Homo sapiens: one gene and its partners. The gene in region 1 interacts genetically with each later gene. Each region holds a gene or a part of one and is shown on either strand. Other genes may lie near its edges.

Region 1 (3,619 bases):
CCGGAGGCGGGACCAGGGGCGGGGCGAGGCCCTCAGCCGGCTCCCAGGGCACTCACCCTCCCTCCCCGCCCCGCGTCGCCTGCGCAGCACCGAGCGCTGTTTGGAGGCTGTTTATGAGAAGTTTTTTTTTTTTTTTTTTTTTTTTTTTTTTTTTTTTGAGACGGAGTCTCACTCTGTCGCCTGGGCTGGAGTGCAGTGGCGCGACCTCGGCTCACTGCAACCTCCCCCTCCCAGGTTCAAGCGATTCTCCTGCCTCAGCCTTCCGAGCAGCTGGGATTACAGGCGCCCGCCACTATGCCCAGCTAAATTTTTTGTATTTTTTAGTAGAGACGGGGTTTCACCATATTAGCCAGGCTGGTCTCGAACTCCTGACCTCGTGATTCGCCCGCGTCGGCCTCCCAAAGTACTGGGATTACAGGCATGAGGAAGTTTTATTCTCAAAAGTACCCAAAGGGAGTAGGAGGAGGTACTCTCTCCAACCTGGTAAGCCAGGCTGCTAAAATCTACGCCTCTGGCCGTAAACCTCCAACAGCAGTAACACAATGGACTGTTTAAAGGTTATTTTATTAAATATTTTCAGTTCAAGGTTTCATTGTAACAAAGCTATGAAGGGTCTACCAACATTCAGAACAAACACTATTTTTAAATTATTTCTATGTTGTCATGCAAAAATTCTGCATCAAATGCCTTCCGTTTCTTGTTTAAAAGGTGATTTTTTAATAGTCTATTGTCTATAGATGCTGACATTAGCCCCAGAAGAGGAGTAAGAATGCTAAGAAGTGGGGCTGGAGCAGCCATATGAAGCTATGGGTCTCAATGAATTCTAAGACCATTTGTCTTCAAGCCAGCAAAACGAAACCCTGTGGTGAAGGGATTTGCGTGCTGGCACTGCAGACTGCAGGGCAGGAAAGGGCTAGGGCCCAGGGGCTGGGACATGCATGAGGTGCTCGGAGGAGCCTGGCTAAATCCAAGCACCAGCACCTGTGAGTCTGCTCTCTTCTCAGCTGGCTCCCAAGTAAACCTGTAGCTTTGCCTCTTCTCCCAGCTCTCGTGCCTCCTGAAGGTAGTCCAGGGAACTGGAATCTACCCACCTTTCCCCCAAAAGTGGAGATGTTTGTGCAGATAAATCTGCAGCGTTGTTTTGAGGGAAACCAAGGCCATGACCAATTGCTCCTCCATTATCTTCTTTGCTATCTGCTTAGGGTATAGATCTCTTCCTCCTGGAATGGAACTCCTTGAGCACAGAGAGGGACAATGAAGGTAGAAGCCTTGGCTCTGGACACCTCTTTTGGGTTACATGCGGGGAGGGGTGATGCCCATGCAGATTGTCCAGCAGTAAGTCTATACTTCAGTTGGTCAGTAAAGAGGCCTCTGTAAGGACACCTCTTCTTCTTGCCAGAGCAGTCAGGTCAATCTCAAAGACAGGAAAAGAGATGGACGTGCAGCAAGGAAGAATAAGAAGGGAGGCAGCCCCAAAGGCAGCCTGAATGCATAGAAACGACCACCACCTCTTCTCCCACTGCCTCACTCCTCCCATCCCACAGGGGCACTTGGCAGAGGGCCCAGGCCCAGATGAGGGTCAGCATGGGGACCACTACCGTGAAAAGGCAAGACAAAGATGGTCCAGATCAGCACAGAAACAGAACCGCCAAAGGCGGCACGGGAGCCCTGACCAGGGCCTGGCTCTCTCCTTGCCAGGTTAGAAGAAAACACGAAGCAAAGCAGCAACAACCCCTCCCCCTCCTAGCTGCAGGGATAAGGCCTCAATATTAGGGCCCACATGCATTGTGCATCCTATAGAAATGGATGAGTGAGTGCATGTCAGACTAACACGAGGTTTCTCATCGGCTTCATGGCGGGTACACTTCTGCAGCACCAATTCTCTTCCCTTCTACACTAAACAAGACAGTACAGCAACGTCCGGGCTCTCAGTCCTGAGGCCACCACTTCTCAGCTGCCTCCACAGCAGGCTGGGAGCTCTGCGTTCTCTCCCAAGTAGGTCTGATGGTCACGATGTTCTCATCAGCCCCATTCTAGGCGCCTATGCAAGTTCCAAAGAAGTTCATTCCTAGACCTGGGGTAAGCAGGCCACCTCAGGAGCTGCAATCACATCACGGCCCCCAAAGCTCTGTCAGAGTTCTTGCCTGGTCCCCCTAAGTCCATGGGGACCAGAGAGGCCAAGCTCACCTCTTCAAGGCCGGTGGGTGAGCCACTGCTCATGCCAGGATGGACCTCATACATACTCCTGCCTTCTTGCCAACCCAAGGGCTGTCGGTGGTTTTAAAACGCATCATGGTATGGATTCCTTTTTTTTTTAAACAATCTTTTTTTCTTTTTTTTTTTTCTTAAATGTAAAAAACACCTCGGTACAGCAGAGACAGACACGAAGGGCGGGCGGGAGGGCTGCATGCAGGGGCGTGCATTGGCTGCTGCCGCTTTTGTAATTGAATTGTTTTAAACCTCAAACAAACAGGACTGCCGCTGTCACTCAGGCCCTCCAGAGCCACTGGCTGCGAAGGTTGGACCTCCGGCTGGAATCTCCTAAAGCCCCTGTCAAACAGGACAGAATGTGGTAACAGAACAGAGGACAATGAGCACACAGATGAGTTCCAGCGACTTTAGCACGCTAAACACATGGCCAAGTCGGCCTGAGAAGGTGGGGAAAGTGGGTGAAGCTAATGCTTAAATACAAAACTGCCTCCCATTTGCTAAGCACTAACTAAGTGCTTTACTTATAGTATCTTACTTAATCCTCACAATGATTAAATGAGGTAGGCACCACTCTCTGCCTTTCTTTGACAGCTAAGGAAACAGTTTAGGGAGGGGAAGTAACCTGTCTGAGGTCATCCAATTTGGAGTCACGGAGCCAGACCCTAGTCTGTCTGATTTCCAAGCATAACTTATTGCAACCATTCTGCCAGGCTTTGCCAGTCCTCTGGGACGGCCCACACCTCCTCTCCCAGGACCACCTCCCAGCCTTCTCTTCTTCCTCTGACCCCACCTATCCCAGGCCCTTCCAGCCCCTCTCCCCCGTCAACCAGGTGCACCTGTGGCTGAGCTCACTGCAGCGGTGCGGCAGGGGCCCCTGAGCAGTGATAGTGGACATTGAGCCACTTGCCATCCCGACGGTGCCAGACCCGGGTCTCTTCTGACTGGCTGGTGCGAGGCCGACCCTGCCCGTCGATGTACTGGGTGAGGCGGATGTAGGCGATGCACGCTGCGTCCTCCCCAATCACGTGGACGTGTGGGTTTAGGATGGTGGTATGGATAGGCTTGCTGTTCTTGGACAGGACTGCAGGGCAGGGTGGGGTAGGTAAGAGGACATCAGGCCTGGGCACCTGCATTTTCCTCCCAGCCTGCACTTCCAAGTCTTACCATCTCCCAAGCAACCACTCCCAGAATCTCCAAGTACCGCCCCCCCCCACCCCCGAACCCCTGAACGCCCTCCAGAGGCCAGGATGCCACATTACATTAGTCTCCTTTATCCAAAAGGAACAGAAAGATGGGTAACAGTGACAGTACCTGCTGCGCTTTTAATCAGGCATTGTGCTGGGGTTTTACATGCCCGAGCTGTATTTCTTGGTGGATAATATTTTCTTCATTATAAGATGAGGAAATA
Region 2 (3,564 bases), about 54 Mb from region 1:
GGCTGTGTCTCCACAGTAGGACTTTCATAGGTCTGCGGTGCAGACTGGTTTGCTGTCCACAGGCTTGGCCCTGACTCCTCGGCTAACATGCACAAGGGCGCTCTGAGGGTCGGGAACGCACCCACCAAGCACAGCCCAGACGAAATGGAAGCTCCTGTCCAGGCAGGTTCCCGGTGAAACTCTAGGGAGCTCCAGCCTTCCTTTCTTCTCCAGTTTATTAAGAGGCTGGCCTCAGAGGTGGACACCTACTTCCACAATTTGATGTCCGACCCTGGGACTCTCCTCTTTACCCTGCCCCCACCTCATCCACCAGCCTTTTGGTCTGAAATCCTTGTCATGGGGTAAAGCTTTTTATTCTGTTGTTGGAAACACAGTATATGGTTTGGCTGTGTGTCCCCTCCAAATCTCATGTTGAAATGTGGTCCCCAGCGTTGGAGGTAGGGCCTGGTAGGAGGTATTGGATCATGGGGGCAGGTACCTCATGATTACTAGCGCCATCCCTTTAGTGATGAGTGAGTTCTTGCTCAGCTAGTTCACATGATATCTGGTCATTTTAAAGAATGTGGCACCCCCCACCCACTCTCTCTCTTGTTCCCACTCTCACTGTGTGGCATGCTGGCTCCCTCCCTCTGCCTTGATTGGAAGCTTCCTGAGCCTCACCTGAAGCAGGTGCCAGCATTATGCTTTGTGCACAGCCTGCAGAACCATCAGCCAATTAAACCTCATTTCCTTATAAATTACCCAGCGTCAGGTATTCCTTTATTGCAATGCAAGAACAGACTGACACACACAGCACAGGTGGAAATACAGGCTTTGCGGACACCGGTGGCCTGTTTTTCTGACACTATCATACTTCCCAGGATAGGCTCTACTCTTAACTCTTCTAACCCCATCCACTTGTTATAAAACACACTTTCAGAAAAAGGCTAGGTTGTTACTGAGGTAACATGGGATGGATCTTTGGAGGTGGGAAGGCCTCCAGCCTCCTCTGGGGAAGACAAAGTAAATCCTCCCTATGGAATTCTCCAGCTTGTTTTCTTGATTCCAGAGAGACCTGCTAGTGAATTCAACTAACAGGTTGGTTTTCAGCACAGAATATTTCCTACAGATGTCGGTGTTTCTTTCCAAATCCTTCCTCTCTTCAGGGCGCTTTCCCACTGTTCTAGACGTAGGAGAGAAAGCACTTCTCAGATGGTGAGCTTTTATCTTCCAATCTTGTCAACCGAGGAGACCTGGAAGTTCCCTTTCAACCTGGAATGTGAGCCCTGCTTGCTGGGCACGAGATAAGGACCAAGGATTGACCCAGGACAATTTCAGAGAGCACAGGGGTGGCATATCCTCATGTCAGGGCGTGGAGCTAATATTCAGACCCAAACACTCTGAATCTCTGAAGCAGAAGCTCTCTTAAAATTCCTGGGGAGGAAATCAGTATGAATTAATAAAAAGCCTGAATATTGTGGATTTTTATTAAATTCGAGGATTTATAGTAACTCAATCCAGGCCAACAAAACGTTGCCTTCCGGTACTTACTTTAATGAATAGAAAGCATGTAAATGCTCTTCCAAAGAGAATAACACATTTTAGCATCTTAAATATGTAAAAATAAAACTCCTGTACAATCCTAGTTGCACTAGGAAGTCTACTTATCAAAAAAAGAAACTTCTGTTTCCAGCCACATTATTTCAAATCATCCCAAAACTTACATTGTTACTAGTAAAATTTTTCATTGTGATTAACACTTTTTTTCCAGTATGGTTTTCCTCTTTCTGAAAGCAACCTTAGTTTCATAAACAGTTGGACATTTAAGTACTGGTCAAAAAAGTACTCTGAACCAGTAACCTCGTCCTTAATTTTGAACTGCTGTTGACTAAGCGCTCTCTTTTCCTAAGCTCATAGCAGCCCTTCGTTCAGTGCTTCAGTAATTCAATAAATTACTTTTTGCCAAGGTTGCAAACATCAGCTAAAGTTCAGTCATCTACTGGAGATGTTATCAGTCTGTCCATTTAAATTCTTTTGCGCAAAGTCCAGATTTGGACCCAAAGTAATATAAAAATGCAAGAGCCAGAAATTTAATAATTTTGTACTGTGTTGTGCCAAGCCAGGCCTATTCTTAGCTAGCCAACAACATTCTTTCAAAGGATATTTTTTGGTTTTCATCAAATGTAAATAGTGTTTAAGAGTCTGTAATATCATTTAGAAGGAACAAATGGAAGTATTAAACCTTTATTGACTACCTACAGTATATAGAGGATCTATAACTTATGATGGTTTTATTATAGTTTCTCAACCTTACAATGGGTTTATTGGGCATTGGGTACATTTTAAACTTATGATATATTCTATTTACAAGGGGTTCATCAGGATATGACCTCACTGTAAGCCCAGGAGCATCCGTACGTACAAGCACTGTGCTTAGCGCTGGAGTTACAGGGAAAAAAAAAAAAAAAGGCACGATGGCTTGTGACATCCTGTGGATGCTCCAGGTCCACAGGAAGACAGAACTCACTTCCAGGGAGTGTTAAATGTGATGCTGGATGCTCCTGTGGAGGAGGGGAGACATGGAAGGGCCTCCCCAGGTAGAGCAGTGACGTGGTCTGGCTCTGTGTCCCCACCCAAATCTCATCTTGAATTGTAATCCAAATAGTAATCCCCACATGTTGGGGGAGGGACCTTGTAGGAGGTGATTAGATCATGAGGGTGGTTTCCCCCATGCTGTTCTCATGATAGTGAGTGAGTTCTCATGAGATCTGATGGTTTTATAAGGGGCTCTTCCCCCTTCACTTCACTGTGCACTTCACTGTGCACTTCTCCTTCCTGTCGCCTTGTGAAGAAGGTGCCTTGCTTCCCCTTCCACCATGATTGTCAGTTTCCTGAGGCCTCCCCAGCCATGCTGAACTGTGAGTCAATTAAACCTCTTTCCTTTATAAATTACCCAGTCTTAGGCAGTTCTTTATAGCAGTATGAAAACAGACTAATACAAGCAGGCTTGGTTTACTGGGCCATTTCCTAGGCAGCTGACAGGGATTGAGCATTCCAGACAGAGGGGCTACCATGTGCTTGCCTGGCAGTAGGAAGCGGTGTGTCCTGTCTGGGGAAGAGCAGGTGTCTGCATGGAGCTGGAGCCCAGGGACAGAGGGGATGGGACAAAAAGGTGGAAAGTTTAAGGATCACCCAAACATTTGTACACCATCCAGGAGTCTGGATTCTGTGTGACGGACCAGCAGTTCTTACCGTGTCTTAAATTATGACCCCCTTTGTGATTCTAGGGAAGACTATGGACTCATTCTCCAGAAAAACGCATGTGTGCACACAGTCATTTGTATAGTTTCAGCAAGTCTTTCCTAACACCCCTCCCCCCATCCTGAGGCTCACAGGTTCCAGGTGTGTCCCCTTTGTGCGGCCTGGCCAGCCCCACAGAGCCCAGCAGCATGCTCAGCTGTGAGTTTGAGAAGGGGTCCCCTGCTGGCTGTGTGTGGAAAGCCAGAATGGAGGTGACGGGGGAAACCGACTCAGCAGGTTGGATTTATAGGCAACATGACCATGTGGGTGAGAGGATGAGAGTGA
Region 3 (4,168 bases), on another chromosome or scaffold:
CCAAGGGCTAGGATCAGATCTCTTCCTGAACTTTTCTCCCCCACAATATAGCCTACTACTGGCACTTAGGAAAGTCAGTGTTTTAGGATTTTGGAGGCAGCCAAAGTCAGTCTTGGCAGCAAGCACACTAAGAGTCACAAAAGTAGAGAAGTAAGAAAGGGTGACACTAGACTCAGAATGCCTCTGTTCATTTTACTCCTGTGGCTCACAATTCCTGCCTGGTTCCTAGGGTTTCTTTAGGGTCTTGTGAGAGAGAATTTCCAGCGAAGCACCTCTTCCCCCTCCTCCTTCAGATTTGGCTCAAATGATACCTGAAAGGCCTCTCTGAGGGCCTGGGCCTGTTCCCGGGTGCGATTGTCCTGCCAGGGCCGGCCTGTAGCACGTGTGGGGCCTGCACGGAGACTCTCCCCAAAGACATCCAGGTAAAAGAAGACATAATCCCCATTGGTCAGATTCTCCCTCTGGGCCTGAAGCAGGATCTCATGCAGCATCTCCAGAGGGCCGCAGATATACACAACTGGGAGCAGGTACATGACAGAGGAGCACCCTGAGAAGGTATCCAGGTCCCCCACACAGCCCCCTCTCTGAATCACTGGGATGTCCCTCTTCAGCAAGAAAGAGAGTGCCCTAACCTATCAACCCCAAAGCAGATGCTCCCCAGCCCACCCCTCTTGGAGTCCACCATAAGTACCCTGGGGCCATATGGACCATCTGGCAGAAGTCAGAGCCTGTCCAGACCCCAGAGGAAGGGAGCTGTCACTCTCAAGCCCCTCCCTTTCCCAGAGCCTCCCTTGCTGCTCCCCACCCAACCGGCCTGCTCCCTGACTCTTCCCTGCCCTTCCCTGGGCTCAAAGGCACAGACAGCACAGATTTCTCAGTATGAGCTTTATCTGTCTTTCCCAAATCTGCTGAGCCCTGAGTCCGTTCATGGAGCCCTCATTATTTTTACACCACCAAGGGGTCTTGGCGCCCAGTCTGGGTGGTAGCTCTGATCACAGACAGGGCACATTTCAGAGTGGCTATCAATCACATTCACTACTCTAGGGCACAAACATTGCTCCCGAAACTTAATATCCCCTCATTTTCACATTCCACCTTGATACAAGGCTTCACCCCTCATGCTCTCTTCTTCCTTGTTTGCATCTGCCTAGGGTGTTCACAAGCTCCCATGATGAAGCCTTGGCCCTCTCACAGGTGCTCTGTCCACGTGTGCTTCTTGATCCCAACCACCACATACAGCTGCTCAATGCCTATCTCCATCTACAGTTCCCCAGTGCTGAGCTTTAGGGACACAGCGACCCTCCTCCCATGACCCTAAAATAGCCCAGGCCACACTCACTGCGCCCGTTGGCCCGGATGAAGTGGGTGGCCTGCTCGGGGCCCCCTGGCTCTCGGGCATACACCTGGTGCTGCACACTGAGGTTGCTGCCCTGCAGGGCCTCAAAGACGCCCTCGATGGTGAAGTAGTGAGGCCGGTCATCTGTGCGAGCATCCAGGTACAGCAAGGCAGCACGGGCAGTCCAATTGAAGTGCCCGTGTAGTGTCACCACAAACTCACCCAGCTTGGGAGCAGAGGGGCCAGTGCGAACCAGGGTACGATAATGGTCATTCTTAGCCGAAAAACCAGAGGCCACAGCACCCGCAGTCAGCAGGGGAAGGCGCCAGTGGGAGGCAAAGCGGGCCACAGAGGCAGCAGGGTACACGCAACCGGGACCTAACAGCAGGTCGGGGTCATGGTACAGCTTGAGGTCCACAGCGCTCAGCGGTGCCAGGTACTCAGAGCAGGCGCCTTCCAGTTCGGAGCTGACAAACCGCAGGTCCACGGGCAGTGCCCGGCCCAGAGCCTCCACAGCTAGTGCCACAGCGGGTCCCACCCGTGGCCAGGCCCAGGCATAGCTCAGGTTGTGTTCTGGCAGCACCACCGCCAGCGTCAGGTTCCGCGCCCCGGGAGGACGCACCCCACCTGCCAGGGCTGCCACCAACAGCAGAAGTGATGGCAGCGCCATGGGGATAAAGCAGCAGCCCCACCGCCCCCAGAACTTGGGGCTGCTCTGGCCTACAGGGGAGACGCGAGCACCCCCCAGCCTGGAGCCTGGGGAAGAGGGCCAGGAAGAGGAGGAGTAGGCTAGGTAGGCTGGGATGCAGAAGGTGCTGGGGGCCGGGGAGAGGAGGGGGAGATGGGAGGAAGGCGGGGGGCGGGCAAGGAGTGGGCTACCAGCCTAGGGCAAGGACTGAGGACTGAGAACGGGGTGGCAGGGGGAGGGAGGGACCGAGGGGGCCTGCGGCCAGGATGGGGACAGTGCGAGGTGAAGAAGCCTGATAAATCTAAAGCTGAGAAGGAAAAGGGGATCTGGGACTGGGATGGGGTGGGGGTGGGGGGCGGGTGGTACAAAGAAACGGCCTGGGGGAACCTCACAGCTGAAAGGGCCGGGAGGGCAGGAGGGCGCTGCGCCACATAGGACCAAGGGGGTAAGGTGGGAGGGTGCCCGCGCCGCGGAAGGACTGGGATCATGGGCAGGCGGGGAGCGAAGCGAGGCCTGGGCCGGAGGGCAGGGGAAGGCAGGGGTAAATCTCCCTGTGAAGGATTCTCCCGGAGCTCCTGCTTGGACTAACGGGCCCGGGCGCTGGTCCCATCCGGAGCTACGGCGGCCCCGCCCGTGTCCCCGCTCCTCTCTGCTCCGCTTCTCCTGGGCCCTGGCGGCCGGCGCTGCCCGGCGCTTCCTCCCGCCCCCCGCCTGGGCCCCGCGCGCGCCGCTCGTCCGGGTCAGGTCGCCTCGGCCCGGCCCGTCTCCGCTCGCTGCGCCGGCGGCCGAGTGCGACTCCCCCGGGCAGGCCGCCCGCCCCCGCCCCTCCCCCGCTGCCTCTCCTCCTCCCTCCCGGCCCCACCCTCCGGCGCCGGCTGCCTTCCCCCACCCCCCACCCGGGCGCTCGGGACCGCCAGGTCCCAAACCCACCCCGGTGAGCACTTGGGGGCTCCGCACCAAGGCCTCGCCGGCCAGCAGGGTTCCCGGGCGCTCCCTCACTCTCAGGGCCTACCCTGGTCTCCCCCACGCCCCTGGTCCCCCTGCCGCCCCTCCTTCCATTTCCATCTCACACACGCCAGCGACCCCAGGGTTTGTCCTCTCCCCCTCGCTCAGCCCGTTCTTCTTGGGTCTCCCCTCTGAACTCCCTGAGTCCCTCAGTGGTTCCAGTCTCCAGGAAGCAGTCGAGGATCCCCAGACGTGTGGTATCCTCACCAGCCCCCTCACCTAGCAAACCATAGCGCCCTCCCGACGGCAGTGCGGCTTACTCCACCGCGGACCATGCCCGCTCCCTGGACGGGCCCCTCCAGCAGCCAGGGGCCCCTGCTGTACACTTCCCACCAGTCCTTAGAAAGTCCACGAGGCTCCTTCTTGCTTGGGACTCAACTCTCGGCCCCCCGCTGTCTCCATGCCCCCTGCCCTCCTCGTGTCCTCAGAGGCCCACCGCAGCCCGCCCGGCTTCCTCCGCACCATCTGCTCAGTCAGGGCCTCGATTTTCTTTTGTCTCCTGCACAGCGCAGGCTGGCGCCTGGGGAAAGCCTGTAACGGACCGGCGGGACACTCCCCGCAGTGGAAGCCCATCCACGCTCTCCTGGGGTTCCACCTTGCTCCCAGCTTCCCTTAGGAAGCTCTCCCTAGGGCCCTCATATCTGGAGTGCCAATCTGACCCCAAGAACAGCTTGTGAGGGATGATCTCATGGTGGCTGAGAGGGACTGCTATGGGACCTTGGGGATTTTTCTCCAACTGTCATAAAGGACATGCACATAAGCCCATTCTCTGCCCGCGCTAAGAGCCACGGTTTCTCTCCCCCCTTCAAGCTATTTCTCCAGAAATCACAAGCTAAGAGCGCTCCTGGAGCCCTGGAGTGGGGTGGGAGTGTATAGGGCGAGGACGGGCATGGTTTCCCTGAGATGAAGGCGACACCTAGTGGTTTGGTGGGGGAAATTAAGGACAATGCCACTTTATCCTTAGGCACGATATTTATTGAACACCGGCTGCCTAGCACAAGCTGTACCTGTGAATACAAAGAAAGCCGAATGATACAGCCCTTACCTTTGAGGAACATGCATTTGCAATCCCTGGGGCACAGAGGCCAAGAGCAGGCCGTCCCTAACAATGTTCTTGCCTCAAGCCCAGTAGAGATGGA
Region 4 (3,564 bases), on another chromosome or scaffold:
GAGGTTGCGATGAAGGGAGATCGCACCACTACACTCCACCTTGGATGACAGAGTGAGACTCTGTCTCAAAAAAATAAAATAAAATAAAATAAAGAGTTCAGAGGAGGATCTGCAAGGAATGGGAAAGGTGAGTCTGGGAGGCAATGGACCGCCCTCAGTAGGTGTGAGCAGACAAGGGCCACATTCAGATCTAGAGTTCCAGAGAGTTCCAAAGATCCCCTGGGAGATGCTCAGGAGGAGATGAAACCATGACCCAGGCCGGGCATGTTGGCTCACGCCTGTAATCCCAGCACTTTTGGAGGCCGAGACAGGCAGATCACTTGAGGTTAGAAGTTCGAAACCAACCTGGCCAACATGGTGAAACCCCCCTCCACTAAAAATACAAAAATTACCTAGGCCTGGTGATGCATGCCTGTAATCCCAGCTACTCGGGAGGCTGAGGCAGGAGAATAGCTTGAACCCGGGAGGTGGAGGTTGCAGTGAGCAGAGATCGCGCCATTGCACTCCAGCCTGGGTGACAGAGAGAGACTCCATCTCAAAAAAAAAAAAAACAAAAAAAAAAAACCAAAACAAGGCTGGGCGCGGTGGCTTACGCCTATAATCTCAGCACTTTTGGAGGCTGAGGCAGGGGTATCACCTGAGGTCATGAGTTGAAGACCATCCTGACCAACATGGAAAAACCCCGTCCCTACTGAAAAATACAAAATTAGCCGGGTGTGGTGGTGCATGCCTGTAATCCCAGCTACTCGGGAGGCTGAGGCAGGAGAATAGCTTAAACCTGGGAGGCGGAGGTTGCGGTGAGCTGAGATGGCGCCATTGCACTCCAGCCTGGGCAACAAGAGAGAAACTCCGTCTCAAACAAAAATAAAAACAAAACAAAACAAACCCACAAAAACAAAAACAAAAACTGTAATCCAGCGGGAACTAATCATGTTGGTGATAATAATAATGACAGCTCTGGTCTCCCATGTCCCAAGCGTCCACTCTGTGCCTCATGCTGTTCCCTTCACCAGCAGTTAGTTCTCCATCTAATCTTTCTTCTGAGAAAGGCAGGGCAGTCACGGCTCCAACTTTACAGATGAGGAAATTGAGGCTCGGGGGGAAGTCACTGCCTGAGGTCAATGGGCAAGTCGGGGGGCGGTGCCAGGACCCATGCCTAGGTCACACCCCAAGTAGAGTTCTGACCATGGGGTTCAGAGTTAGCAGAGGGTACGGGGGACCACCCCATCTGCAGTCCTCCCTGGAGGTCAGATCCGGGACTGCTGGACTGTGTAACTTCAGGGAGGGACTGTACTCTCTGCCTCACAGTCTTCATCAATAAAATGAGGATGACACGGGTCCCTGCTTCACAGGGATCCCAGGGCTCAGAACACAGTGGGGCTCAGGGACAATTCTCAGGTTCATGCAGTTGATCAACAAATGCACATTATAGCCTGAGGAACATAGGGAGACCCCATCTTTACACAATTTTTTTTTTTTTGAGCCAGAGTCTCACTCTGTTGCCCAGGCTGGAGTGCAGTGGCGCAACCTCAGCTCACTGCAACCTCTGGCTCCCAGGATCAAGCCATTCTCTTGCCTCAGCCCCCGAGTAGCTGGGATGACAGGCATGCGCCACCATGCCCAGCTAATTTTTTTGTATTTTTTGTAGGGGTGGGGTTTTGCCATGTTGGCCAGGCTGGTCTCAAACTCCTGACCTCAGGTGATCCACCTGCCTCAGCCTCTGAATGTGCTGGGATTACAGGCATGAGCCACTGTGCCCGGCCTTTCTTTCTTTTCTTTCTTTTTTTTTTTTTTTGAGACAGAGTTTGGCTCTGTTGTGCAGGCTGGAGTGCAACGGCGCGATCTCCGCTCGCTGCAACCTCTACCTCTCAGATTCAGGCAATTCCTCTGCCTCAGCCTCCCAAGTAGCTGGGACTCCAGGTGCCAACCACCACACCCAGCTAATTTATGTATTTTGGGTAGAGATGAGGTTTCACCATGTTGGCCAGGCTGGTCTTGAACTTCTGAGCTCAAGTGATCCACCCGCCTCGGCCTCCCGAAGTGTTGGGATTACACGCGTGAGTCACCCTGCCCGGCCAGACCCCTATCTTTACACAAAAATTTAAAAAAATTAGCCAGGCATGGTGGCGCACACCTGTGGTCTCAGCTACTGGGGGACTGAAGCAGGAAGATCGCTTGAGCCCAGGAGTTCTAGGCTGCAGTGAGCCACATTCATGGGACTGCACTCCCGCCTGGGCAACAGAGCAAGATCTTTTCTCAAAACAAAACAAAACAAAACAAAACCACAGACAAAAACTAAATGCATATTAAATGCCGACTCTGAGCCCTGTCCGTCTTGGGTGCTGGGGACGTGCAGCATCAGGACAGATAGATGCCCCGGTCCTCGGGGTGCAGCTGTCTGGGAGGCTGACCCCCAGTTCTCCCCAGTACATGCCTCTGCTGGTGCTGGACATCTTCGAAGATCTGCCTGGAGTCCCCGGGCTTTTCCTGGCCTGTGCTTACAGTGGCACCCTCAGGTGAGCACCCCTGCTTGTTCATGGAGCATTATTTCAGCCCCTGGGAGCCTCCTTATCCTGGCCTGCCATCCCTCTGGGGCATGGAATGTTCTGGACCTGTCCATCAGTCCCAGTTCCTGCTTGATCCCTAGAAGACAGCTCAGGTAGGCGCTGGCAGAGAGCATGCCCTGGGCACAGGGACCCCAACTGCAAGGGTTTACCTTCTTATCACCTGTCAGGGCCACGCCTGACTCTCCTCTCTTCTTCTTCCTTCTTTCCTTCCTTCCTCCCCAGACAAATATTTGTTGAACATCTACTATGTGGCAGGTACTGTTTTTTTTTGTTTTTTTTCCGGATGGAGTCTTGCTCTGTCACCCAGGCTGGAGTGCAGTGGTGCCATCTCGGCTCACTGCAACCTCCACCTCCTGGGTTCAAGCAATTCTCCTGCCTCAGCCTCCCAAGTAGCTGGGATTACAGGTCCACGCCACCACAGCCGGCTAATTTTTGTATTTTTAGTAGAGACGGGGTTTCGCCATGTTGGCCAGGCTGGTCTTGAACTCCTGACCTCAGGTGATCTGCATGCTTTGGCCTCGCAAAGTGCTGAGATTGCAGGCATGAGCCAACGTGCTCAGCCCAGGTACTGTTGTTCTAAACCCTGGGGCACAGCCATGACCAAGCAGTCCCCTGCTTCTGCCTTCCAAGGCCACACACTCAGGTGGTTTCCACTCTTCCGGGACTTCTGGTCACATGCCCTCACTGTCCCTTTTGCAAATCTCCCACATGTGACTGCAGTCCCTCTGGAACCAGAACCCACCTGTCTGTCCCACCTGCCCTTGGTCACAGGTGTCCTTGCTCCTGTAGGGATGTCTCAGGTCTTCGGGGAGGGGAGGGGCAAATATCTCCTTCACCTTTGCAGGACTGGGTTACCCCCACCGTTGCCCTCAGGCTGGGTGAGGTCTGGCAGGCCAGATGGTGTGGACGGTCTCTCCATATGGCCTGAGGACCCCCCGCTGCCTTCCTCACACAGCACAGCATCCACCAGCATCAATGCTATGGCTGCAGTCACTGT

Evidence for each region.
Region 2: changes in CAMK2G (region 1) and PTPRE together harm fitness more than expected from each alone (negative genetic interaction), as found in Homo sapiens cells (one large-scale study listed by BioGRID).
Region 3: changes in CAMK2G (region 1) and NPR2 together harm fitness more than expected from each alone (negative genetic interaction), as found in Homo sapiens cells (one large-scale study listed by BioGRID).
Region 4: changes in CAMK2G (region 1) and SLC5A5 together harm fitness more than expected from each alone (negative genetic interaction), as found in Homo sapiens cells (one large-scale study listed by BioGRID).

What each region holds. Positions count from the first base shown.
Region 1 is NC_000010.11:73,811,956-73,815,574, forward strand, and holds the end of CAMK2G (calcium/calmodulin-dependent protein kinase type II subunit gamma), read right to left. Parts: intron 3,293-3,619; coding exon 3,060-3,292; 3' UTR 3,048-3,059; intron 2,551-3,047; coding exon of another isoform or gene 2,489-2,550; 3' UTR 546-2,488; downstream 1-545.
Region 2 is NC_000010.11:127,913,564-127,917,127, forward strand, and holds part of PTPRE (receptor-type tyrosine-protein phosphatase epsilon isoform 1 precursor), read left to right. Parts: intron 1-3,564. UniProt on the Homo sapiens protein: Isoform 1 plays a critical role in signaling transduction pathways and phosphoprotein network topology in red blood cells. May play a role in osteoclast formation and function.
Region 3 is NC_000009.12:35,790,247-35,794,414, reverse strand, and holds the start of NPR2 (atrial natriuretic peptide receptor 2 isoform 1 precursor), read right to left. Parts: upstream 2,825-4,168; 5' UTR 2,007-2,824; coding exon 1,340-2,006; intron 518-1,339; coding exon 312-517; intron 1-311. UniProt on the Homo sapiens protein: Receptor for the C-type natriuretic peptide NPPC/CNP hormone. Has guanylate cyclase activity upon binding of its ligand. May play a role in the regulation of skeletal growth.
Region 4 is NC_000019.10:17,878,438-17,882,001, forward strand, and holds part of SLC5A5 (sodium/iodide cotransporter), read left to right. Parts: intron 1-2,394; coding exon of another isoform or gene 2,395-2,427; coding exon 2,428-2,516; intron 2,517-3,522; coding exon 3,523-3,564. UniProt on the Homo sapiens protein: Sodium:iodide symporter that mediates the transport of iodide into the thyroid gland. Can also mediate the transport of chlorate, thiocynate, nitrate and selenocynate.